Homo sapiens: one gene and its partners. Changing the gene in region 1 together with any one later gene gives a genetic interaction. Each region holds a gene or a part of one and is shown on either strand. Other genes may lie near its edges. The genes, in order: PPP2R1A, MBTPS2, GOLT1B, NUP85, POLN, CDC40 and MASTL.

Region 1 (3,500 bases):
ACCCATTTGCTGGGCCTCAGAGACTTGGGGGTTCTGAGATTCTGTTCCACTTTCCCAGCCTGCTCTGATCTCCCTGTTTGGGGCCCCAGTCCTTGTTTATCATACTTCTGACCTTTAAGTAATTGGTTGGTTGGTTGGTTTTTTGCAGTTTGTTTGGTTTTCCTTTGAGGCAGAATCTCGCTCTGTCGCCCAGACTGGAGTACAGTGGTGCGATCTCGGCTCACTGCAACCTCTGCCTCCTGGGTTCAGGCAGTTCTTGTGCCTCAGCCTTTCAAGTAGCTGGGATTACAAGTGTGCACCACCATGCTTGGCTAATTTTTGTACTTTGAGTAGAGATGGGGGTTTTCCCATGTTGTCCAGGCTGGTCTTGAACTCCTGGCCTCAAGTGGTCTGCCCACCTTGGCGTCCCAAAGTGCTAGGATTACAGGCTTGAGCCCCCGTGCTCGGCCTTGAGTTTACCTTTTTTTTTTTTTTTTTTTTTTTGAGACGGAGTTTCGCTCTTGTTGCCCAGGCTGGAGTGCAATGATGCAATCTTGGCTCACCACAACCTCCGCCTCCCAGGTTCCAGCAATTCTCCTGCCTCAGCCTCCCAAGTAGCTGGGATCACAGGCGTGCACCACCACGCCCTGCTAATTTTGTGTTTTTAGTAGGGACAGGGTTTCTCCATGTTGGTTTGGCCAGGCTGGTCTCAAACTCCCAACCTCAGATGATCCACCCACCTTGGCCTCCCAAAATGCTGGGATTACAGATGTGAGCCACCACGTCCGGCCTGATTTTACTTTTAATTGACTCATAATTTTATATATTTATGGGGGTATAGTAGTGTTTCAATAATGTGTGCAAATGTGTAATGATCAAATTAGGATAATTAGCATATCTATCACCTTAAATGTTTACTGTTTCTTTGTGATGAGAACATTCAAAATCTTCTCTTATAGCTGTTTTGAAATATGCAAAATGTTATTATTAACTATGGTCACCCGCCTGTGCAGTGATCAGAGATTTCTAATTCCTGTGTGTGCCCTGGATTCTTGAGACTCCTCCCACCTTGGGTTTGGTGTATCCGTGTCTGTGTACACTCTCTTGCCCAAGAGCCCTGTGCCCACCTGTTGCCCCAGTCCATCCTGGCTCACCCTCTCTCTCCCTGTCTCCTTTCGCTTTCCAGCACCTTGCAGAGTGAAGTCAAGCCCATCCTAGAGAAGCTGACCCAGGACCAGGATGTGGACGTCAAATACTTTGCCCAGGAGGCTCTGACTGGTAAGACCTAGAAAGCACGGAGCCCTAGCAGGAGGGTGGACTTTGAGGACAGGCACTGGGCCTGTGGGCAGCAGCTTCTGGGAGGGGGAGGTACCTTGGCATTGTGGGCAGAGAGAGGGCTCTGGTTCTGATTCTTGCCTGTTCCTGTTTTCCTAGTTCTGTCTCTCGCCTGATGCTGGAAGAGGAGCAAACACTGGCCTCTGGTGTCCACCCTCCAACCCCCACAAGTCCCTCTTTGGGGAGACACTGGGGGGCCTTTGGCTGTCACTCCCTGTGCATGGTCTGACCCCAGGCCCCTTCCCCCAGCACGGTTCCTCCTCTCCCCAGCCTGGGAAGATGTCTCACTGTCCACCTCCCAACGGGCTAGGGGAGCACGGGGTTGGACAGGACAGTGACCTTGGGAGGAAGGGGCTACTCCGCCCACGTCAGGGAGAGATGTGAGCATCCCGGGTCACTGGATCCTGCTGCTGTAATGGGAACCCCTCCCCCATTTACTTCTCCACCTCCCGTCCTCCCCATCATTGGTTTTTTTTTGTGTGTCAACTGTGCCGTTTTTATTTTATTCCTTTTATTTTCCCCCTTTTCACAGAGAAATAAAGGTCTAGAAGTAGTTGGTCCTCTGGCCTTAGTCATCAGCTTGGAGGAGGGGGCACCACCCCAGAGCCACAACATCTGCGCTTTTCTCTGGAGAAGATCTTGTTACAGGACCCATTATACCCCTATGTCCCGAAAGAATACTCTGGGGATCCCCCCAGGAGTGCTGCTGGCCTTTGGGGTAGAGGGTCCATGAGGTGCTCTGGGTGGTGTCCTGTAGTGCAGTTCAGATTCATAGATGTCGGCCGAGTATTTGGGGGGTTAAGAGCAGGTGCCTTGGAACCAGACTGCCTGGGTCCAAATTGTGGCTCCTTCAGTTAATAGACGTGTGACTAGGAGTAGCTTGTTAAGTCTTTATGAGCTCAGTTTTGTATTGTGTAAAATGAGAGTTACAGTAATACCTAGATTGCAGGGTGGGTGGCGAGGACCAAGTGAATTAGTACCTGGAAAGTGTGTAACAGTTTCAACATGAGAAGTACACAACATGAGAAGCAGAGTTAGCTGTACATTGCCAGAGAACCCCCTGTGGGCCATTTCCTGTGTTCTTGAAGAAGACTTGGGCTTGGACCCTGTCCCCAGGAGGTCTCAGAGTAATCAGGACGGTACTAGGGAGAGAACTGTGGCAAGATAGATCAGTTATCTCGGTATCTATTCTCCCCTTCCTAATGTAGAAGCTCTGATTTTTAACTGGGCAGATGACTACATGGATTCAAGGTATTTTCCTAGTGTCTCTTGAAATTAGGTGTGGTATTGTGACCAAATTCTAGCCAAAAAGATGTTGAACAGAAGTGGTATATGCAGCTTCTAGGAAGTGTTCTTAAGGGGGAAGGCGTCATCCCCCACCTTTCCTCCTTCCTGCACTCTGGAATGTGGACCAGATGGCTGGAGTAGGAGCTGCCACCTGGGGCCAGAAAATGATCTTAGGCGTGAAGGTCAAGTAAGGCAGGACAAGAGAGAAGGAGCCTGCCTCCCCGAGGCTGTGAAGAGCCATGCCAGTACTGTCACCTGGGAGAATTAAACTGGTCAAGTGCCTGTTCGTTTAGGGTTTCATCACTTGAAGGTGACCGGAATTCTAACTGATGGAGGGAGGGGCCCAGAGCACCCTGGAGAAAGGAGCAAGGGACGTATGGCTGGTGGTGTCTGCATGGAAGGGTTTCACAGAGGAAATGATGCTTGAGCACATTTTGACCCAGGTGGTGGAAGGGAAATGTGGCTTTGAGTGACAAGGTGATTTCACCAGCTCAGCCTTCATATTACCACATCCCTACCCTTTGTTAGACTTTATTGTGCCCTAGGGGATGAGGCTGAAGGAGACCAAAAAGCATCTTTAGAAATTTCCATTTATGCCCTGGGCGATAAACTCTCTCCCAGTTGAGAACTACTGCTCTAGAAATGTGAACACACGTGTAACCAAACGTCAAAGTCTGACATTAAACTTTGACTTTCCCCATGGTTAACGCTGCTGGTCCATTGTAACAAGAGTGCAGTGGACCAGCAGCCTTTGCATTCTCAGGAGCTTGTTAGAAATGCAGAGCCTCTCGTCCCTGCCCCGACCTGCTCAGGCAGAGCCTTCATTTTAACAAGATGCCCAGGTTCATCTGCACACTGAAGTTAGAGAAGTCCTGCCTTAAATACTAACCCAGTTTTTC
Region 2 (4,048 bases), on another chromosome or scaffold:
ATATGTAAAACAGTCATAAGCTGTCTTGAAGCTGGAGAAACATGTCCCTAAGTGAGTAAAACTTTAGGAAAAGCAGGGAGAATGAGGCAAATTAGTAGCAATATTTGTAATATAGGTTTCTGGTATTATTGTATATTTTCACTTGGAAGGGGGTTGAGGATACATTTTTATTTGGGATACTTGTTCTTGAGATAGTATTATGTTCTCAATATTTTGGTATTAGCATTATTATAGCTAATGATGCTTTTCCAGAAAAGTTGAAACAAATAACTTTTAAAGATGCACATAAATAGAACGTAAAAAAACCCCAATAAATAGTTTTCTTTTCTCTTAGAGATTATCTAGTTCAGTGGTTCTCAACCTTGGCTGCACAGTGCAATGACTTGAGGAGCTTAAAAAGTATAAATGCTTGGGTCCCACTGAGCATCTGATTTAATTGGTCGAGGATACAGAACGGGCATCGGGAATTTTAAAAGACCTTGGTGATCCTAAAGTGCAGGTAAGGTTGAGAACTGCTGCTCTAGTTCAATATATAATCAGGTATACATTAACGTTAAAATGTGTAGGTGTTCAGAGTTCTGATTTTTAACCATAGCACCATCTCAAATATTATAAAAGGTTGAAAAAAGAGCCTAATTTAATCAACATGGATAAATTTCAAAAAGCATGTTGAACGATACAAGCCAGACACAAAGAGTACTTATTGCTTTCTATTTACATAAAGTTAAAAATAATCAGAACAGGGGGAGGGGCTACTGACTAGGAAGGGACGCAAGAAGGAAATTCCTGAGAGGGAAATTTTCTCCATTTTGATTAGGGTACACGTATATATATATATATATATATTTATCAAAACTCACAGAAATGGACAATTGAGCTCTGTATGTATGATTTCATTACATGTAAATTTACACTTCAGTAAAAAGGATAAACAATTAAATCTGGATATCTATGACAGGGTCGGGGAGGGAGAGATTATTACTTCAGACGACCCCAAATCCTCATGGGTTAAAAGAAACAGCAAACCCCTGACCAGAACTGGCGAGAATGGAGAGTAGACAGCAGGGAGGGCCAAAGCCTAAGAAATCGCTACAAGACTAGATGCCGAGTTCGAACTACTGCCTGGACGGCAGCGCCCGAGCGCCCGCAAAAATAAGCCCCCGTGCCATTTCCGGTACTAGCAAATCCTCCTGTATGTCCCCACTGGAAGAGTCCGGTGGGAAACCGTGCCACCGCAAGGAAGGAGCCGGCGGTAGCTTGGTTCCTGAGCGGATGCTGGGGCTGTAAGGCGCGCGCGGTCAGCTGTTGGCGGTGCAGGGAGGAGGACGCCGGGGCTCGCCTTCCCTCCTCTGCCGCCGCTGCCGCCATGATTCCGGTGTCGCTGGTGGTGGTGGTGGTGGGTGGCTGGACTGTCGTCTACCTGACCGACTTGGTGCTGAAGGTGAGGGCCTTGGGCCTAAGGTCCAAGCCCGCGGTGCCCATGGCCGGAGCGCAAGGCCTTCTTTTCTCTTCCCCTGCCTGGCGCCTCCCGGGCTGGACGGTGCCCACGTGCGACAGTCCGCGTGGTGGATCGGCCCGGTGGAGTAAATAAAACATTGCCGGCCGCGGGAGGGTTGTGGCGGCCTGCGCGGCTGCCACTGTCGCAGTGCGGGGCAGTGCAGGCCCTTCAGCCTTCGGGTCCTGCCCGGGAGGCGCCAGTGGTGGGATCGGGAGGGCCGGGGCCCTGCCAGACCCAGCAGCTGCAGTGCAGCAGGGAGGAAAAGAAAACGTCTGCTTAGTAAAGACAGTGCTTTCCCTTATTGTTTTTAAGTTCAAAACGCTCTAGAGACTCAGATATTGGAATGAATCTAAATCAAGTCGTGATTGAAATCAGTAGTCTCAAATTTTTAAATGCATATGATCATCTGGTTTGCGGTCAAAATGCAGATTCCGATTCAGCAGGTCTGCGGCAAGGCCTAAAATTCTGCATTTCTAACCAGTTCCCAAGTGCTACTGATGCTGCCAGATCACAGAGTGTACTTCAAAGTAGCACACTCAAATAGCAAGGATTTACATAACCAGTTTCTAACTACTTGAATTCTGATTTACACGCTGCACCCCACTTCTTCACACTAACCAGATACCCTGGGTGCACGGTCCATTTTCCAGTTATTTGAGAAGGGTAGCAAAAAATCAGGAAGAGTCGTCTGACCACATGCTTCAGGCAAGCTTTTGGAATTGAGTACTGGGGGGTAGGGGATGGGGAAGAGTAACTATATATGTGGAATAAGATCATATAAATTCTCAAGTGTTTAATAAAAATTCCAGTTATGGATAGCAAAATCTTCATGTTATGAATACCATTTAAAATAGAAAACCATAGTATTGCATGTTTTAGCTTTAACAATAAAATGAAATGAGACTTTTCCTTCTATCATTTAAACTTGTAAAGTGCAGGAGGTTACATAGCGTAGTCCTTAGATCCAGGGCTGGGCTTCTAGCCAATGTGACCTTGGGAAAATTGCTATCTGTGCCTTGGTTTCTCATCTTTAAATAGAGATAATAGTAAGGATCTCCTAAGATTACAGAGAGAATTACATTAGTGTATCCACATAAAGTCTCGCTCCTCAACTTGAGGTTCAAGGACCAGTAGCACTTGCATCATTTCGGAGCTTGTTAGAAATGCAGAATCCCAGGCCTCACCCCTGACCTAGGGAATCCGAATCTGCATCTTAGCAAGATCCCAGGTGACTCCTCTGCACCTGTTTGTGTTTGAAAAGCACTGATGTGGCCGGTCACAGTGGCTCACACCTGTAATCCCAGCACTTTGGGGGAGGCTGAGGTGGGAGGATTGCCTGAGTCCAGGAGTTTGAGACCAGCCTGGGCAATATAGTGAGACTTTATCTCTACAAAAAATTTAAAAGTTAGCCAACCATGGTGGTGCATGCCTGTAGTCCCAGCTACTCTGGAGGCTGAGGTAGGAGGATCTCTTGAGTCTGAGAGTCAGAGGTTAACAATGAAACAAGATCGTGCCACTGCACTTTGGCCTGGGTGACAGAGCAAGACCCTGTCTCAAAAGAAAAAGCACTGATTTAAAGTACTTGGCATAGTGGTTAACGTGTCATAAGCAATACAGGCCACAATGATTTTGTTGTTTGAAAAAGCCACATGAGCCAGGCATGGTGGTGCAGCCTGTAGTCCCAGCTACTTGGGAGGAAGAGGCGGGAGGATCGCTTGAGGCCAGGAGTTCCAGGCCAGCCTGAGCAACATAGTAAGACACACACACAAAGCCACATGATTTCTTCATGTTGCATATGTGAAAAAAATCTAAAATAAAAAGAACTTTTACAGTCCCTAGTCACAAGTGTGTGAGGTGACCAAGATGTCACTGGTTTCAGTAACAACCCCTAGCTCCTTAAGAATGCACCAACCTCTGAGCAAAAGACCTAACGCCTACTCAGAGTATCTGCCTGGGAAATGGAGAGACCTCAACTTTTAGGAGCCTGCACCTTTAGTTTCTCTGCCTCCAGCTTGGTCTGCTGATCCACCCTGGGCTTTTCTAGGATTTCTGCATAGACATCTGTTAGAGAAGTTGTGTCACTCCTTTTCCAAGTCTTGGAAAACAAGTACACTTAAAATTTAACTACCTGAAGACTGAGAGCAGATAATACTACAGATCCAAAGCAAACAGCTACCTATATTCAGACTATGGTCATTTTTTAAGACTATGATAGGGCTAAGATTTCCTTCTTGGACAGATAAGTTTCTCACATGGGTGGGCATGAATATGACAATACTTACTGTACTTACTGTGTCAGGTATATAACACAGCCTTATGTCATCCAAAATCCTATATTAGTCAAGGACTTCAAACTTCCCTAAAGGTAAAACTCTTGTTGGGGCTGTGTATAAGCCCCTATCCCCACAACCCCAGAGAATTTAAGGGACATTATTGAGCCCAAGATGGCTTTAGATAAGTTTTTTACTTTTTACATGATCGAGGTTGGCCTAACTTCTTAGAGTTGTTGCTCAGAAGAAGAAAGCAAACACTGATCGCAACTGTCCCTTC
Region 3 (3,500 bases), on another chromosome or scaffold:
ACATTTGTTTGGCTTTTAATGTGGGCAACTGGCCAGACAGAACTGTAATGTACAACCAAGCAGCAGAACCAAGGAGTGGGTTATGCATTTTAAAGTTGTAGCTTTGTTCCACTTGTCTCATTCCTCTTCTATCTTGATTAAATGGAGAAAAAGAGAAACAAAGAAAGATTAGACGTTACCAAGGGGCATCTGTGTCTGCAGTAGTTTTCCTAGTTTTAGCTGGATGAGGAAGGCTTAGTCAAGCAGATGAGTTGGCAAGGCATAAAGAGGAAAGCTGCCCATAAATATGTCACCCAAGGGTATTCCTCTTGGTTCTGAAATATTCATCATAGGCTACAGGAGTTTCTATGGATGGGAGAAATATTGACATGGCTAAGTTGATAGCAGAAGAAACAACGTGAAGCCAAGAAGATTCTAGTTTTATAAATTCTAGAATATCTGGTGGCAGCAGAAATAAAAATACAACCATGTGTTTTCAAATATTTTGAATGTATTCTGTGGACAAGAAATGGTGATGGATTAAGAGCTTGCTTTCCCCAGGTTTTCTTTCCAAATACTTGCCCTCCCCATTAACATTCTTTAGTGAAAAATATTTCGCACAAATACATATTAAGCCTAATGGTTAAGCTTCATATTCTAGGATACTAATGCTATTATCATTTATTAAGACATCAATTTTGAACAATTTTGCTATTCTTTATCTTTTCCCATTTCCAGTTAAAAGCCCAAATATATATGTGTGTGTGTATATATATATATACACACACACACACATACAGTGTCTTCACTACCTTAGAAGGGTTATTATTTATTTCTGGATCATAACCTCCACACATGAATAGCATAGTACACATTCCAAATAAACAACATAGATCCCTTTCTAAGCAAGTCAACCATTAACATAGAAATATATATTTTTAAAAAGGTTAAAAAAATCTATCTTATGCAGCTGAATCAAATGTGAAGTCTTGGATGTTTAAAGTAAAAATACTTTAGTGATTTATCAAGACATGAAACTATCAAGTCATCTATTTTGAACTCCTATTTAGAGGCAGCCTTCATTTAATCTATTGTAAATCTCATGACAAACACTTAACAGAGTAGTTATGGAATTAGAAAACCTCATTAAGTGTTTACCTTTTATTTAAACAGAAAGCTGACAGGTTTCATTCCTGATGGAAATAGAGAATGTAACAGGAATTACTTATGAGTAATAGTGAATTATTTTCCCCAAATTTAATAGCAGATAATAATTCATTCGTAGTTAAAATTTCCTTATAAATTTAGTTAAAATATATATTTAAAAACTCACATTTCCAATAGCCAGTAGTGCTTTGTCAAAAAAGAGAATCATTCCAAAGAACAGGAAAAACACTCCAAATCCTGTTAATCCCATTCCAATTTCTGCAATATAAGGTATATGGTTAAGGGTAGAGAAAAATTAAAGTCACATTAACATCCCTGTAAACTAAGAAAATTTTCCAGTTTTCCTTTCATAGGTATAAGAAAACAGGTACCCAACATTGCAGGTTAACTTCATAATGACATTTATTTAGCTCTTATAACAAATTAATTATCAGCAAATTATTTCAAAATTTAAAACATGAATGAAAATTTCTAAGCCTTATATGGGAGATAGCATTTCTCAGACATAGCTATAATAAAAAAGATAAATCGGGATTCTAAACCTTTGGTTTTAATATGTAATTTGTTTTTTTCCTCCTGAAAAGCTCTCTCGCATCAGACATAAATGTATAGGTTTCCTTAATTACTTATCTCCTTTCACATTCTATAATTATTATTTAAATGCACAATATCTGTAGTTCTTTCTTCCTCTTAAAATTGATTCCTTCTTTACTGCATTAGAAATGTTATGGTAGGTCCGCACAATCAATATCCTTTATCCAATTATATACTGCTTGTCACAATGGCAACAAGAAATATTTCGAAAATCATGGTACCAGTATTCTCAAAACCAAATTTTCAGAAGGTCAGGCATCACTTTTAATTTCTTGATTACTTATTATGGACTTATCTACAAATTTACCTAAACTATAAATCTACTTAAATATTTGGTCTAGAGTCCTAAAATCACCTCTCCGAAGTTTCAAAGAATACTGTTTTACCTAATATTAATATTCTAGGTTTTTCATGTTTCATTAGTTTCATTAAAAAACAAAGAATTGTTGATCAACTGCCAGATGCAAGGAACTGTTCCAGGTACTGAATATACAGTGGTAGACGAGGTGTAAGCTTTAAAGTCTATGTTTATCTTGTATATAAAATTAATACTTTTATTGACTGTGCATTCTCTAGGTCTTATTTTTTTAGTATGAAAAGTCTTAACTTCTAAGGTGACAGATGTACTCTTCTATTAATGTTATAAAGCACAATTCACTAAGTTACCTCCTTGATCATTTTAGTTTTGATTCTAGAAAATAGCCATTAATCCGTAGTTTAGTTAGAAGCACAATCTGCATACAGATGAGTCAGAGTAGAAGCCACCGTATTTTTAGAAGCACAATTTAAAATACCCTATCACTGATTTCTGATCTATTGCTTAACTTTTTTGCCTCAGCTCCAGAAAGCTAAAATCTAGGTCACAGCTACTTAAAAAACTCTTAAGTCATATAAAATGTTCTGATAACTTGAAAACTTTTATCAACTTTAGCTTTTTCTACATTCCCCACCTGCTCAATTTCCTGATAACTAGTGTCTTCCATTGCAGACACCTTTTGTTCCCAAAGTTAGTCTAAAATAATTCAGGTACCTGGTCTATAAATACACCAGTTAAGTGAATTCAACACACATTCCTATGAAAATTTGAGGCTGATACTTTCATGATCAAAGGCCTTAAGAGAATTTACCAAATTAACTATTTGGATAGTGGACATAATTTCATAGAGGAAAATATGGACAAAAGAGCAAGTAAAATTCTATTAAATAACTATTTAGTAGTTAGGATTAAACATCGGCAGCTTTGTTAGTTGAAGATGACTAATTTCTATCATTTCACAAATAACCTTGATGATTACATAAAAATTCTGAGATGTTTTTAGAAAGGAAGGTATATGGAAAGACACCTACTATGTACTGAGAATTTACCACGAATTAGGCCTTATGAAGTGCTTCACATACCTTATATATAACTTAATACTTCCAATACTACTGGAATGCAGGTATAATTACATCTTTTTAAAGATGGAGGAAATTGAAGTTTAGAGAGTTGACTTAAGTTGCCTAAAGCCACACTTCTAGATAAGCATTCGAACCAAGGTCTTTTGAATCCAAAGCTCATGTGCTTAACCATTAATGCCATACCTCTTCCCACAGAATTTTTATTTTTTAGGTTAAAGGTGTTTGGTTACATGAAACTCAAGGACACTGGAGTATTCTGAACTTCTGGGGGACGCATCTTTTAGGGGATTCAAGTTTAATATTAGCTTGTTATCTAACATAGCCAAGTAGAACTATTAAAAATTAACTGCGGTCAAAAAGGC
Region 4 (3,500 bases), on another chromosome or scaffold:
AGTGCTGCACAAAGCCACCACGGTCTCTCTACAGGGCCCAGCAGGCCTGAACCACACAGTTAGGTCTTAGATCACACACGCACACACTCCCACTCTCACTCTGTCTCTCTCTCACTCTGAAGGATTCTGAGTGAGCAGCCGAGACACAGAGCAGGTGGGCATCCTTAACATTCAAGGCAAGAAAGGCCTAATTATCAGCTCCAAAGTAGCCCTCTGCTGAAAACGAGAGAACGCTGCGGAGTTGGGAAGACCAGCTACGGTGAAGGTGACCCCTCTAAGCAACTGTAGCCCCAAATGAGCTGTTTGTCCTGTACTAAGGTCACTGTCAACTCCTTACCCAGGCCCCATCTTGCTTGTTGGGGGCTCTGGAGTAATCAAAGCTCCAGTGCCTCTACCTGCTATTCTGGAAATGGGGTGTGAGGTTTGTAAACACTGCTGCACCCTGCATCCAAGATTGTGGGCTGGGCCAAAATACAAGTCAGAAGATTCTAGATTCAGCAGACATTAAGCTGGAACTCTTCTTGGTTATTGAAGGAAGACTTGTCACCTTTTAGCTCGATACTTTTGGAGGACTTGAAGGGCACCAGGAAACTGCCGACATCTTGCCCAACTCCCAGTGAAGTGCACCCCAGCTGTTTCCTCTTGCCAGACAGCAAGGAACTGGCCCGTCTTCAGAGGAAGCTGTAAGCCAGGAGGGAAGAAGGGACCCTGTGGAGGACTCCTGCCATCTCCTTTCAGCTAAGGGGTTAGCAGTCAAGCATGCCCACCCAGGCACTGAGAGACAAACCCCTGGCCCTTTAGCAGGGCTGACGAACTACAGCCTCTGAGTCAGGATCCCCTGGCTGCCTTTTCTGCCCCTTAGGGTCTGGCACGATTATTGACATAGGAGTAAATCAGGGGCCCACTTAGAAACCTCCCTTCTCCATGTTCATATGAAGGTGGTGTGAACAGGAAAGGAAAAAAAAGAAAGAAACCTTTTTTCTAATGCCTTTAAAAAGGCATGCCAACAGCTCACTGGCTCAAGTCCAGAAAGAGACACACTTCCCTGCCGCCCAGAACTGTGCATGGGTCTGACTGATACATCCCATGAGAAAACAAGTGCCCACAAGACCCCAATTCAACCTTTCCCCAGAGCCAGGAGGGCACACTTCCTAAAACTGCTACTGCCTCTGAAGACATTGCAGCCCATTTCACAATTCCTGGGACAAGCTCTGCTTTTCTGTTCCTCTTTCAAAACAGGATAGGAGGTAGCCTCGTGATCAGAGAAATGCAAACTCCAAGATTTCCCACTAACAGAGCTCAGATCCCTTCCTGCTTGTGAGAGTGGAGAGAGGCTGAGACTGGGGGACTGCAAGCCTAATCATTCCTTGTCTGTGTCCGGCACGAGAGTGATGTTGTTCACCCCTCTTCATGGTACTTCTCTTTCTCTTCTGCCACTGGAAACAGCAGGATGCTTTCCCCTTTTATACTCCCTGCATCCAACAGACTTCTTCTGCTCAAATCTGTTTTATTCCTAAAAATCCAGATACAGGGCTTATAAATTAGGAAGCCCTGGTGAAACTCACTCACTGTTATAACACAGGAAATTTAGAATACTCAACTATGGGCAGAGACACCAACAAAGCCAAACGATGGTGTGTTTGTGTGTTTTTAAGTTATTCTCACTAATTCTTCCATGCAGGGACTTCTCACAATGTTTACAGGCCTGTGAAAATATTGACACAAAACTTGACTTTCAGGCCGGGCATGGTGGCTTACGCCTGTAATCCTAGCACTGTGGGAGGCCAAGACAGGCAGATCGCTTGAGCTCACAAGTTCAAGAACAGCTTGGGCAACATAGTGAAACCTCATCTCTCCAAAAAAAAAAATAATAATTAGCCAGGCATGGTGGCGCACACTTGTAGTCCTAGCTACCTGGAAGGCTGAGGCAAGAGGATCACTTGAACCCAGGAGGTCAAGGCTGCAGTGAGCTGAGATCACTCCACTGCACTCCAGCCCGGGTGACAAAGTGAGACCCTGTTTCAAAAAAAAAAAACTTGGCAGGGCGCGGTGGCTCACGCCTGTAATCCCAGCACTTTGGGAGGCCGAGATGGGCAGATGACCTGAGGTCAGGAGTTCCAGACCAGCCTGCCTAGGCAACATGGTGAAACCCTGTCTCTATTGAAAAACACAAAAATTTGCTGGGCGTGGTGACGGACACCTGTAATCCCAGCTACTTGGGAGACTGAGGCAGTAGAATTGCTGGAACCCAGTAGGTGGAGGTTGCAGTGAGCCAAGATCACGCCACTGCACTCCAGTCTGGGTGACAAGAGCAAAACTCTGTCTCAAAAAAAAAAAAAAAAAAAAAAAAAACCCAGAAACAAACACACAAAAAACTTGTTTTTCATTCCCCAAATCTAGTATCATTTTCTTGAAGCCCTGGCATTCTTTTGGCCAAAACAAGAAAAGCAGGTAGGGCGAAGGAAACTCTTCCCATGCCCAGATCTACAAACAGCCAGTTGAGGTCAGTGAATCTGACACCTGATCAAGGCCATCTTCTGCCATTACCCACTTCCTCCCTTCCCAGCACGTCTTCAGTGCAATGCCCACCATCCAGGGTGCACAACAAGGAAGGGGACCTTCTTTCTGACTTACCATATATGGAGAGTTCTGGAAAGGTTTACCTTTGATTGATTATGTTTGGCACTCCCTTTCCTGCCTTGCTAAAGATTCAGTGCAATCATAGAACACCCTCTTTTGGATAGAGGGCTGGAAATTCTGAATAATACCCAGCCTGAAGCCCAGTGGTTCGGTAGCTCACGTCACTGGAGTGAGACTCTTGGAACACGCCATCCCATAAGGTGTCCATTAGGTGCCAAGAAACAGGCTTGCTGGCTTTTTCTAGATTTTAAATGTCAAAGTAGTTTCCCGCGATGTTATTTTAAATGAACATCCCTGAAATGGAAACAGTTATGTATATGGTAGCCCTCAAGCCTCCAGGAAGTCCCTAAGCTCACCCAGAGAAAAGCCATTATCTACCTGTGGCAAGTCAAGCAGGGGAGCAGATGCTATGGTTTGAAGGGATCCCCTCTAAAACCCCAGTTTTGCCAATGTGATAGTATTAAGAGGTAGGGCCTCTAAGAGGTGATTAGGCCAGGAGGTGATTAGGCCACATCCTCCCTCATGAATGTGATTGGGTGCCCTTATAAAGCGACTTGATGAAGGGAGTTTGTCCTTCTTGCCCTTCCACCACATGAGAACACAGTGTTCAAGGTGCCATGTTGGAAGCAGAGAGCAGCCCTCACCAGCAACATTGCCAGTGCCCTGATCCTGGACTTCCTAGCCTCCAGAACGGTGAGAAAATAATCTTTTTCTTTATAAATTATCTGGTCTCAGGTATTCTGTAATATCAGCGTGAGATGGACTAAGATAGCAGGTCTGAGGGAAGAAGGGTAAGGAAGGAACAGGCCACTCTAGAAACGCAAGGTGGTGATATTTGTACACCTAAAAATGGTTACAGT
Region 5 (3,500 bases), on another chromosome or scaffold:
ATGGCTTAATATGTTTTTGAGACTCACTCATGTTGATACACGTAAAGCTATATAGTTCATTCATAGTTTTCTCTTTTGTATAGTTAGTATTCCATTATATGATATTCCACAATGAAATTATCTGTTAGATTGACAGACATTTAGGTTATTTACAGTTTTTGTTACTATAGATCATACTGCTATGATGGTCTTATATGTCTCACAGCTGCACAATTCCAGTTTCTCCACATCTTTGCCAACACTTGTTATTTCCTGTGGTTTTTAAAACAGTAGCCATCCCAACGGGTGTGAAGTGGTATCTGTGATTTGTTTTTTGAAAGGTCTCCCATTACTGATTTTTGTCTTCTTGATCTATTGAGAATTGTGTAAAAATTTCCACTGCGATGGTGGATTTAAAAATTTCCACTGCGATGGTGGATTTGAAAATTTCTCCACATAGGCTGGGTGCGGTGGCTCACGCCTATAATCCCAGCACTTTGGGAGGCTGAGGCGGGTGGATCACAAGGTCAGGAGTTCAAGACCAGCCTGGCCAAGGTGGTGAAACCCCATCTCTACTAAAAATACAAAAATTAGCCGGGCGTGGTGGCGGGTGACTGTAATCCCAGCTACTTGGGAGGCTGACACAGGAGAATCCCTTGAACCCGGGAGGCAAAGTTTGCAGTGAGTCAAGATCGCGCCACTGCACTCCAGCCTGGGCGACAGAGCAAGACTTGGTGTCAAAAAAGAAGAAAATTTCTCCATGTAGTTGTATATCATTTTTTTCTCTATGTATTTTGAGTCTATTTTATAAGTTATATCCAGGTTTAAAGTTGCAGTGAATAATTATCCTGGTCGTTTTAAATTGCAGTGAATCAAAGCATTTAGCATTACATAATGACTATTCCTGGTGATGCTTTTTCTCTTGATATTGTTTTGTCTAATATTAATATTCCTTTGCCATTTTTCTTTTGCTTAGTAATGTAAGGCATATAGTTTTCTTTTCTTTACACTTTTCCAGTAAGTTTTTGTTATTAGTTAAGTCCTGATTCACGGACCCAGGGTAGGGATCATCATGTACCCAGGTCCCCGTTTACCACCCTGGGAGAAGGATGGAGAACAGAGGAAAGGTGGGGTGGAGCCAGTTCTGATTTTCCCAGGAAACGTGCCTTTGTCCCAGGTCAAGACCAAGGATATGGGGCAGAGGGACTTGCACACATGCCAGTACCATTTGCACACAGAGACATCACCCCCTTTAGCAGTCATTGCCGTCTTGGAGTGGTAGAAGTCCAGGTAGTTTTGCCAGCAGTTCATGTTCTGGTTCTAGTTGACAAAGTGGCTGTCAAATGGGACAGTCCTGTAGTTCTTAATTTTGACCTTCATGTCTTCTGCCATGGTGCTAACTTCTAAAGACCCTCAGCAAAGACCATAGTTTTGTTTTTACTTAGCATGATGAAATAAACATTTTTACTCTCTAAATAGTTTTCTTAACTTTTAATGTTAACTATACTGTCTTGATTTAATTACTGTGCCATCAATTTTGTAGCTGGTTATTGTTACTGGGTATTTTGATAGTCTTCTTTTTTTTCTTTTGTTTGCTCTTGAACAATATCATATGTATCTTTGTGTATATAGCTTTTTGTTGTTGGATACTTTCATCTGGATACATTCTTGGAAATAGGGTCATTGGGGTTTTTTGTGCCAGGGTGGTATATACACTTTTTTTTGCCTTTGATATGGCCAGATTGCTTTTTAAAGGAGTTTATAATGCTACCAGCACTATATAAGTGTCTACTAGACACCATTGACCATATGGCACGCCATCATTTTATGAATTGCCAAAAAAGAAAAACTCTTAGTTAAACCAACACAATGTTTTCTTATTAAGAATTTTTGTTTTTCATACTTACTAGAAAAGATCTTTTTAGATGTAGGTAGACATAGATTTTTATCATACCACTCTTGGGCATATGTTAAAAGGAAAAAAATAAGTCAATTTAAATGGTTAGGGTAGTTCTAAAGCATCACATTTCAATGTTCAATTCTTCTGTTATTTTTTGACTCAGAGTTGTCTGTAATTTTCCACACTGTGTATCAGGAATGTTGATGAGAAAGTATTTCTTAAGAGTACCTGGCCAGAAACAATCATATGATGTTCTTGATTAAGATGCATCTTCATTTCAGATATGTTAAAATGTGAAAAAAAAATGCATCCAAGAATCACTAAAATATGGTAATCTCACTCTAATCTTATCAGTGGGTATCATTAGTGTTTTTCCCTAGCTCAATGTGATATAAAATGCCGTATCAATTTTAACTTGTGTTTCTATTATTAATGAAGCTGAACTTCAGTATCTGTAGCAATGTTGTTTTAGCAACTGTATGATCTTTAGTATTTAATTGAAGGTAAAGATGAGATTGTTGTTTCTCAGTATATTCAAGTTTACCAAGTTTGTCTTAGAGGATATCACTAAATGTAGATATAATGTCGAAATTACTTGATTTTCAAAAGTATGTATTTTAAGAAGTACTCCTCTGTGAATTGGCATTTATGACAGGTCTTAAGTAGTCATTCTTGAACTTGTACATTAGAATCATCAGGGAGCGTATCAAAACGCAGGTTCCTAGCTCTGTACAGAGATTAAGTAATTTAGTCTAGTGGGGGGGTACAGGAATCTGTATTCATAACAAGTACCTCAGATAATTATGATACTTGTGGACTATGCCTAGAAGCTGTGGAAAATTGAGGGTAGTTAGAGCAACAGATTTTTCTGAGAACCTCTTTGGTGATACTGGCTAAAATTTATAAGTAGAATGCTTGATTAGAAAGCTATGGAAACTTGTTAATAATCTGGTTTAAATGCTAGACACTGAGGAATTTGAATTTACTGTAATAAATATGAAGGGTCGGCATGGCTAGATTCTTGAGCAGGAAAATTATATGATTAGGATGGTTTTCGTGGAATGTCATGTGTAATTCTATTTGGTAAGACAATATGAAAAAATGAAAAATGGAGATTTGTGTTGAGCTAATTCTCTTTTATTGGTCTTCATTTCAACTTTCTCTGTACCTTCTGTCCAGAATAAACAGAGAATAGGCTAAAACAAGGTTTGATTTATTAAGCAGAATATAAGCTCCATCAGGGAGATTTTGTTTATTCTTGTATCAGTAATCTCTAAAACAGTACTTGGCACAATAGCATTTGTTGAATATATGAATGCACAGAACAGCTTACATATCGAGTACACTTCAGCAAGAGTTTCCTTTGAATCACTTAAAATTATCTATCAGAAGTTGTTGCAATTAATCTTACTTAGAATTTATATTAAACCTGTTATGGATTTTAAATCGAGGTTTATTTATTGCTAAAATTGCGGGAAGTTATTAAGTCCTTTAAAGTCTTTCCATGTAAATTATATTTTAATTTTATAATTGGTATTAGGAATAAAGTGTTTTAATTTTTATTTTTATTTTCCTTTTTTAGGAGTTAACAGAGCAGTTTCATAAAGTTGAATCTCAACTG
Region 6 (3,500 bases), on another chromosome or scaffold:
CATTCTTTCATCACTCACATGAGGTTTTTTTTTTTTTTTTATGTTTTTTCTCCTTCACCAAACACATTTGAAATGCTTTACATGTAAACTGAAGATAGTCCAGGTACCAAGCATTTATTTATCATCATTTATCATCATTTCTGGATGGGCTAGATCAGCTCACAGATCCCTACAGCTTTGCCTGCCATCCACCTGCATTGCTGCAGGCTGTTTAACACTCTCACCTCCTCAAGTTAAGGTAGGCTAGCCAGTAAATAACACTTCCCCATAGGCTTACCTCAGACATCTTGCTTCACCCTACCATGGTACATTTTTAATTTAATTTTTGGTTTTATTTCAACAGCTTTTGGAGTAAAAGTGGGTTTTGGTTACATGGATGAATTATATAGTGGTGAATTCTGAGATTTTAGTGTATCCATCACCATGGTACATTATTAAAGAACTTTCTTTCAGTAACAGATTTTTTAACATAAAGGCCAAAGTTTAAATGAAATAGAAAACAAAATCACCACCACTGTTATAATGATCATGGAAAGTGATTTATGAAGTACAGGATTTACCATAAGCAGTACAGTGTCATCTTGTGATTTTTCTTCTTCCAGAAAGTTTCATGAAAGATTTATTAAATATATAATATCAAGAGTTTGCTTTTATTTGCATATTATTCCTTTGTTCCAGAGATAATTCTGAAGGTACTTTTTAAAAGTTGCTTATTCTGATATGCTATTTAAAATTTTTAGGGATATCCCTGTGGATTTCAAGTACATAGCAGAACCCAGTATGCACTCAATGCCTGCAGTGACTTTGTCTCCAAATGGTGAGTTAGTATGTAGATTGTATTTTTAAATGAGCTTCTAAGATACAGTGTGATTTCTTTATTCAAAAGAACTTTGGCCCCTTCCTTCTTGGGGAAGTTTGTCACTGTGCCATTATTTGTATAAGGTAATCTTTACAATATTAGAAAGAATTACTGGTTTTCATATGCAAGTCACCTCACCTACTTTTCTGTGTCTCTTTTTAAATAAAAATAAAAGAAACAATGATTTACAGCTAACATTGATTGAACATCAGATTTTTATTTAACAATCAGTTTTCTTTTCTTTTTTCTTTTCCCCTCCTCTCCCCTCCTCTCCTCTCCCCTCCCCTCTTTTCTTTTCTTTTCTTCTTTTCGAGACAGGGTCTCCCTTTGTTGCCCAGGCTAGTCTCAAACTCCTGGGCTCAAGTGATCTTCCCTCCTCAGCCTCCCAAGGTGCTGGGATTACAGGCCTAAGCCACTATGCCCGGCCAGAGTTTTCTTTTCTAATTCTCCTTCCAAACAGAATCACGTTCAGTAAATCATTTAATAATGATTTGGCCAAGGCAGAAGAATCACTTGAACCCAAGAGTTTGAGACTAGCCTGGGCAACATAGAGAGACCTCATCTCTACAAAATAAAATTTTAAAAATCAGCTGGCATGGTGGTGCACATTTGTAGCCCTAGCTACTTGGTCAGGCTGAGATGGGCAGTTTGGTTGAGCCAGGAGATTGACTATGATCATGTGACTGTACTCCAGCCTGGGCAACAGAGCAAGACCCTTCTCTCTAAAAAAAAAAATAGTAATAGTGATTTACTGTAAACTCTTTCAGGGGATAGGAAGTTTTGGTCTGATTCTCCATAATGAGAGAACACTTTAGCAATTCACTATAAAAGATTTTCTCAGGCAAAAATTAAGAAGATAAATCTATTTAATATTGTTTAATCCATTGTCTTTTACGTACAAGATAATTTGTGCTACAGATATACTGACAATATACTGATGTAATTATAGCTTTACATGAGAGTCTTAAAGTGGGAGTTCTGATGTTTGGGGGACCTTGTCATTGAAACCACTGTCAATTCACATAATTAACTCCAAGTGTAGGGCAAGGAAGAATTTGCTGTTCCATCAGGGCCTCTGACACAAGCAAATGGTAATAGTTGTCAAATGCTCTATCATTTTTATGAGAAGAGAAACCTAACTGAACCTTTTTTTGATCATTGCTAGATTATATACTTCGTCACTGTGCATCTATATTTCATGTAGCGTATTTTTAAACCACCTATTACAGATTTTGTGCCCATCTTGAACAAGGCCATTTACCCACTCAGGCATTATTTAAGTCTGTTTCCTTAGTAAGTAATGTTTACATGTACAGTTGGCCCTTTGTATCCATGAGCACCATATCCTGGGATTCAACCAGCACGAATCCAGAATATTCAACAAAATAAACAATAAAAAATAACAATACAACAATTAAAAACAACACAGCATAACAACTAGGTACAAAGCATTTACGTTGCATTAGGCATTATAAGTAATCGAGAGGTGATTTAATGTATACAGGAGATATGTAGGTTATATGCAAATACTATGCCATTTTATATAAGGGACTTGAGCATCTGTGAATTTTGGTATTGGGTAGGGGTGCAGATCCTGGAACCAATTCCCAACAGATACCAAGGGATGACTATATATAGGATGCAAGTATAGTCATGCATTCCTAACAACAAGGGTACTTCTGAGAAATGCAGTGTTAGGTGATTTTGTCATTTTGTGAACATCACACAGAGTACTTACACAAACCTAGATGGTATAGTCTACTTACCCTAGGCTGTATGGTATAGCCTGTTGCTCCTAGGCTTTACCCCTGTATGGCATGTTGCTGTTCTGAATAATGTAGTCAGTGGTAAGCATTTGTGTATCTAAACATAGAAAAGGTACAGTAAAATCTCAGCATAGAAAAGGTACAGTTAAAATTTAGCACTATAATCTTATGGGACCACTGTCATACGTGCGGTCCATCATTGACCAAAACATTGTTAAGTGGTGCATGACTATAGACGCTGCAGTTTAGGCTCTAGGGGCTTTGATGAATCCTAAGTAGAGAAAAGCATTGTAGCCTTTTAAAAAGTTACTATAATTTTTAATATATCTTTTTTTGTATAGTTTTATTTAATAACCCTAGGCTTTCTCACCCCTTAATCTTTCTTTATTCTGTAATTACCACAGATAAGTCTCTTTCTCCTATTTCCCATAGTTCTGTTGTCTATACTTACTATAAATTAATTTCATTTCACAACTTTTAGCTTATTTCTTTAACATTAAGCTTGGAATTTCTATATTTCCTTATTTTTTTAAAAACTTTTATATGAGAGTGCTCAATGATATAGGATCGTATATGCAAAAGCCATTAGTTTATATATTAATACCTCTTGCCAGTGACATATTTATAACATTTTACAGGTGGTATAGTAAATTTATTTTTTAGTATTATAAAGTATTTGGGAGCAAAACTTATATTAATCACAGTGAACATATTTAAAATAAAAAGTTTTAAAAATTGTTTTAGTCTTCCTCTAAAATACCTCATTTATTGAATTTACAGGAAAATGGCTAGCATGCCAATCAATGGACAACCAAATCTTAATTTTTGGAGCACAGAACAGATTTAGATTAAATAAGAAAAAAATTTTTAAGGGC
Region 7 (3,500 bases), on another chromosome or scaffold:
ATGATGAAGGGTTAATAACTGAAAACATATTCAAATATACACGGCCACCACTAAGACCTTGATCAACAAAAGGACAAAGAAAATGAATACACAGTTAACACATATATGTATATATGGGACTGTGTTCTTTTCACTAGTAGTAATTAAATAAATGCTAATATAAGAAAGAGTAAATGAACCATCTTACACTATTAAATGGGCAAAAGAAAGGAATACCGATGGTCCAGTTAGTAATACTACCAAAAAAGCACACTAATATTTTTCTGGGGGCATTGTAAATTAGCATAGTGCTTTCTGGAGGAAATCTGCCAATATGTTTTTAAATATAAAAGTTTTTAATTCTCTTTGATCTAGTGGCTTATGCTTTGGAATTTATTCTAAGGAAATTGTTCAAATGAACAAAATACACATAAATGAAATCACTTGTAGCAACATTGTTTCTAATAGGGAGAAACTAGAAATTACTTAAGTTCATCATAGAAACATGGATAAATGATTGATTATCAACTTAGAAACATATTGTATTCTTGGCCGGGTGCCGTGGCTCATGCCTGTAATCCCAGCACTCTGGGAGGCCGAGGCGGGTAGATCACTTGAGGTTGAGGTCAGGAGTTCTAGACTAGCCTGGCCAACCTGATGAAACCCCATCTCTACTAAAAATACAAAAATTAGCTGAGTGTGGTGGCACACGCCTGTAGTCCCAGCTACTTAGTAGGCTGAGGCAGGAGAATTGCTTAAACCTGGGAGGCAGAGGTTGCAGTGAGCCAAGATCACGACACTGCACTCTAGCCTGGGGGACAGAGCGATACTCCATCTCGAAAAAAAAAGAAACATATTGTATTCTCTATTAGAAAGTGTAGACGGATGGGAAAGTATTAATAATGAAAATAACCAGAAATTGGACTTAAAAACTCTGGAATTATAACTATTAATATTTGAAAATATATGCAGATCTACAATTCTTCATGTGGAAGTACAAAGTTCAACAGTTATGAATACCTAAAACTTTTTACTAAGTTTGGTAAAATCTGATCTATGCTGATGTAGGGGTATTTATAGTCTTTTGTTTGTTTGTTTGTTTTGGGATGGGGTTTTTGCTCTGTTGCCCAGGCTGGAGTGCAATGGCGTGATCTCGGCTCACTACAACATCCACCTCCCGGGTTCAAGCAATTCTCCTGCCTCAGCCTTCTGAGTAGCTGGGATTATAGGTGCCCGCCACCACGCCCAGCTAATTTTTGTATTTTTAGTAGAGACACAGTTTCACCATGTTGGCCAGGCTGGTCTCGAGCTCCTGACCTCAGGTGGTTCACCCGCCTCGGCCTCCCAAAGTGCTAGGATTACAGGCATGAGCCACCGTGCCTGGCCAGGGGTATTTATAGTCTGTTGATTCCAGTTCATGTGATTATTCATATGATTTGCCACTAGGGATATTTCATAATATGCAGTATATTTACCACATTACTTTTCTAAAATCTAAACATTTTTGAATTGTGATTTCAAAGAAATCTGACTTTGAAATCTTATTTCGAAATCTGATTCTAAGGATTTCAGATAAGCTATTGGAAAATATCACAAATGACAAAAATTTTGCATTAAGATAAAATTGTTGATAAATTTAAGTCACTTTGTTTATCATAAGGGTCTAATTTTAATAAAACTTTTTTTGTAAAATATCATATACGTGTATTATTATTATCACTTCATCAATGTGAGGCATAAATGACATTTGTTGTTAAAACTTTCAGTATACTTTCATTTATTTACTTATTTGTTTTTTTTTTTTTTCTTTGAGACAGAGTCTCGCTTTGTTGCCCGGGCTGGAGTGCTGGAGTGCAGGGGCACAATCTAAGTTCACTGCAAGCTCTACCTCCTGGGTTCACGCCATTCTCCTGCCTCAGTCTCCTGAGTAGCTGGGACTACAGGCACCCACCACCACGCCCGGCTAATTTTTTGTATTTTTAGTAGAGATGAGGTTTCACCATGTTAGCCAGGATGGTCTTGATCTCCTGACCTCGTGATCCACCCGCCCTGGACTCCCAAAGTGTTGGGATTACAGGCGTGAACCACCGCGCCCAGCCTATTCATTCATTTATTTATTTTGAGAGAGAGTCTTGCTCTGTCACCCAGGCTGGAGTACAGAGTACAGTGGCATGATCTAGGCTCACTACAACCTCTGCCTCCCAGGCTCAAGCGATTCTTGTCCCTCAGCCTTCCGAGTAGCTGGGACTAGAGGCATGAGCCACCACACCCAGCTAATTTTAAAAAGTCCTATAAGAACATTAGAGTTCTGGGATTATTTTTGTTTGTTTAAGAGACAGGGTCTCACTGTATTACCCAGGCTGGAGTGCAGTGATGTGATCATAGCTTACTGTAGCCTTGAACTCCTGGGAAAAGCAATTCTCCCACCTCAGCCTCCCCAGTAGCTGGGACTACAGGTGCTTGCCACAATGCCCAGCTAGTTTTTAAATTGTAGAGATAGGTCTCACTATGTTGCCCAAGCTGGTTTCAAACTCCTGGGCTCATGGGATCCTCTCCATTTGGCTTCCCAAAGTGCTAGGATTACAGATGTGAGCCACCATGCCTGGATAAGAACATTAGACTTCTCTTACCATTTTTTATATCTAAGTGGAATAGTATAGTATTATGTGTCAGTGTTGAATTATTTTAAAATATTATGCACTGAAACATGCTAATAATCTGGGTCAGTTTCTATCTTGACCTAGGCTTAAACATATTAGCTAACGTGAGGGGCCTAAAATTAATATTGATTCCATACCATCTCCTTATTTATTTATTTAGTTTTTGAGATAGAGTTTTGCTCTGTCGCCCTGGTCGGAGTGCAGTAGCGCGATCTCGGCTCACTGCAACCTCCGCCTCCCGTGTTCAAGTGATTCTCCTGCCTCAGCCTCCCGAGTACCTGAGATTACAGGCGCCCACCACCAAGACCAGCTACTTTTTGTATTTTTAGTAGAGACAGTGTTTCACCATGTTGGCCAGGCTGGTCTCGAACTCCTGACCTCAAGTGATCCATCTGCCTCAGCCTCCCAAGGTGCTGGCATTATAGGTGTGAGCCACCGTGCCCAGCCACTGTCTCCTTTTTTAACATTTGGTTTACAAAAAATTGTTTTGTTGTCATATACATAACATTCATTTTTAGTCAATGGGAGGTAAAGGTTTTAAATACATTTATATACTTTTCTTTGCATACATAGATATTAATATGATGGATATCCTTACAACACCATCAATGGCAAAACCTAGACAAGATTATTCAAGAACCCCAGGACAAGTGTTATCGCTTATCAGCTCGTTGGGATTTGTAAGTACTTGAGAAGAAAATTAACATGACATACCCCTTCATGATCACCACTTAAAATTTAAAATCACCTTTAAAAAAAAAGATCAAAATAGATTTAAATATCAAGCATTTGGATTTACTTTAACAGTTTGTCTACTTAGGTGGTATAACAGTCTATGTACTTAGGTGGTGTTTTGGGGAA

Evidence for each region.
Region 2: changes in PPP2R1A (region 1) and MBTPS2 together harm fitness more than expected from each alone (negative genetic interaction), as found in Homo sapiens cells (one large-scale study listed by BioGRID).
Region 3: changes in PPP2R1A (region 1) and GOLT1B together harm fitness more than expected from each alone (negative genetic interaction), as found in Homo sapiens cells (one large-scale study listed by BioGRID).
Region 4: changes in PPP2R1A (region 1) and NUP85 together harm fitness more than expected from each alone (negative genetic interaction), as found in Homo sapiens cells (one large-scale study listed by BioGRID).
Region 5: changes in PPP2R1A (region 1) and POLN together harm fitness more than expected from each alone (negative genetic interaction), as found in Homo sapiens cells (one large-scale study listed by BioGRID).
Region 6: changes in PPP2R1A (region 1) and CDC40 together harm fitness more than expected from each alone (negative genetic interaction), as found in Homo sapiens cells (one large-scale study listed by BioGRID).
Region 7: changes in PPP2R1A (region 1) and MASTL together harm fitness less than expected from each alone (positive genetic interaction), as found in Homo sapiens cells (one large-scale study listed by BioGRID).

What each region holds. Positions count from the first base shown.
Region 1 is NC_000019.10:52,224,552-52,228,051, forward strand, and holds part of PPP2R1A (serine/threonine-protein phosphatase 2A 65 kDa regulatory subunit A alpha isoform), read left to right. Parts: intron 1-1,165; coding exon 1,166-1,257; intron 1,258-1,413; coding exon 1,414-1,430; 3' UTR 1,431-3,500. UniProt on the Homo sapiens protein: The PR65 subunit of protein phosphatase 2A serves as a scaffolding molecule to coordinate the assembly of the catalytic subunit and a variable regulatory B subunit.
Region 2 is NC_000023.11:21,838,369-21,842,416, forward strand, and holds the start of MBTPS2 (membrane-bound transcription factor site-2 protease), read left to right. Parts: upstream 1-1,248; 5' UTR 1,249-1,366; coding exon 1,367-1,441; intron 1,442-4,048. UniProt on the Homo sapiens protein: Zinc metalloprotease that mediates intramembrane proteolysis of proteins such as ATF6, ATF6B, SREBF1/SREBP1 and SREBF2/SREBP2.
Region 3 is NC_000012.12:21,504,789-21,508,288, reverse strand, and holds part of GOLT1B (vesicle transport protein GOT1B), read right to left. Parts: intron 1,405-3,500; coding exon 1,313-1,404; intron 1-1,312. UniProt on the Homo sapiens protein: May be involved in fusion of ER-derived transport vesicles with the Golgi complex.
Region 4 is NC_000017.11:75,226,179-75,229,678, reverse strand, and holds part of NUP85 (nuclear pore complex protein Nup85), read right to left. Parts: intron 2,935-3,500; exon of another isoform or gene 1,514-2,934; coding exon of another isoform or gene 1,399-1,513; exon of another isoform or gene 548-1,398; intron 1-547. UniProt on the Homo sapiens protein: Essential component of the nuclear pore complex (NPC) that seems to be required for NPC assembly and maintenance. As part of the NPC Nup107-160 subcomplex plays a role in RNA export and in tethering NUP96/Nup98 and NUP153 to the nucleus.
Region 5 is NC_000004.12:2,232,122-2,235,621, reverse strand, and holds part of POLN (DNA polymerase nu), read left to right. Parts: intron 1-3,461; coding exon of another isoform or gene 3,462-3,500. Other genes in the region: HAUS3 (HAUS augmin-like complex subunit 3), read left to right, coding at 3,462-3,500. UniProt on the Homo sapiens protein: DNA polymerase with very low fidelity that catalyzes considerable misincorporation by inserting dTTP opposite a G template, and dGTP opposite a T template. Is the least accurate of the DNA polymerase A family (i.e. POLG, POLN and POLQ).
Region 6 is NC_000006.12:110,225,427-110,228,926, forward strand, and holds part of CDC40 (pre-mRNA-processing factor 17), read left to right. Parts: intron 1-740; coding exon 741-817; intron 818-3,405; coding exon 3,406-3,500. UniProt on the Homo sapiens protein: Required for pre-mRNA splicing as component of the activated spliceosome. Plays an important role in embryonic brain development; this function does not require proline isomerization.
Region 7 is NC_000010.11:27,161,852-27,165,351, forward strand, and holds part of MASTL (serine/threonine-protein kinase greatwall), read left to right. Parts: intron 1-3,212; coding exon 3,213-3,319; intron 3,320-3,500. UniProt on the Homo sapiens protein: Serine/threonine kinase that plays a key role in M phase by acting as a regulator of mitosis entry and maintenance.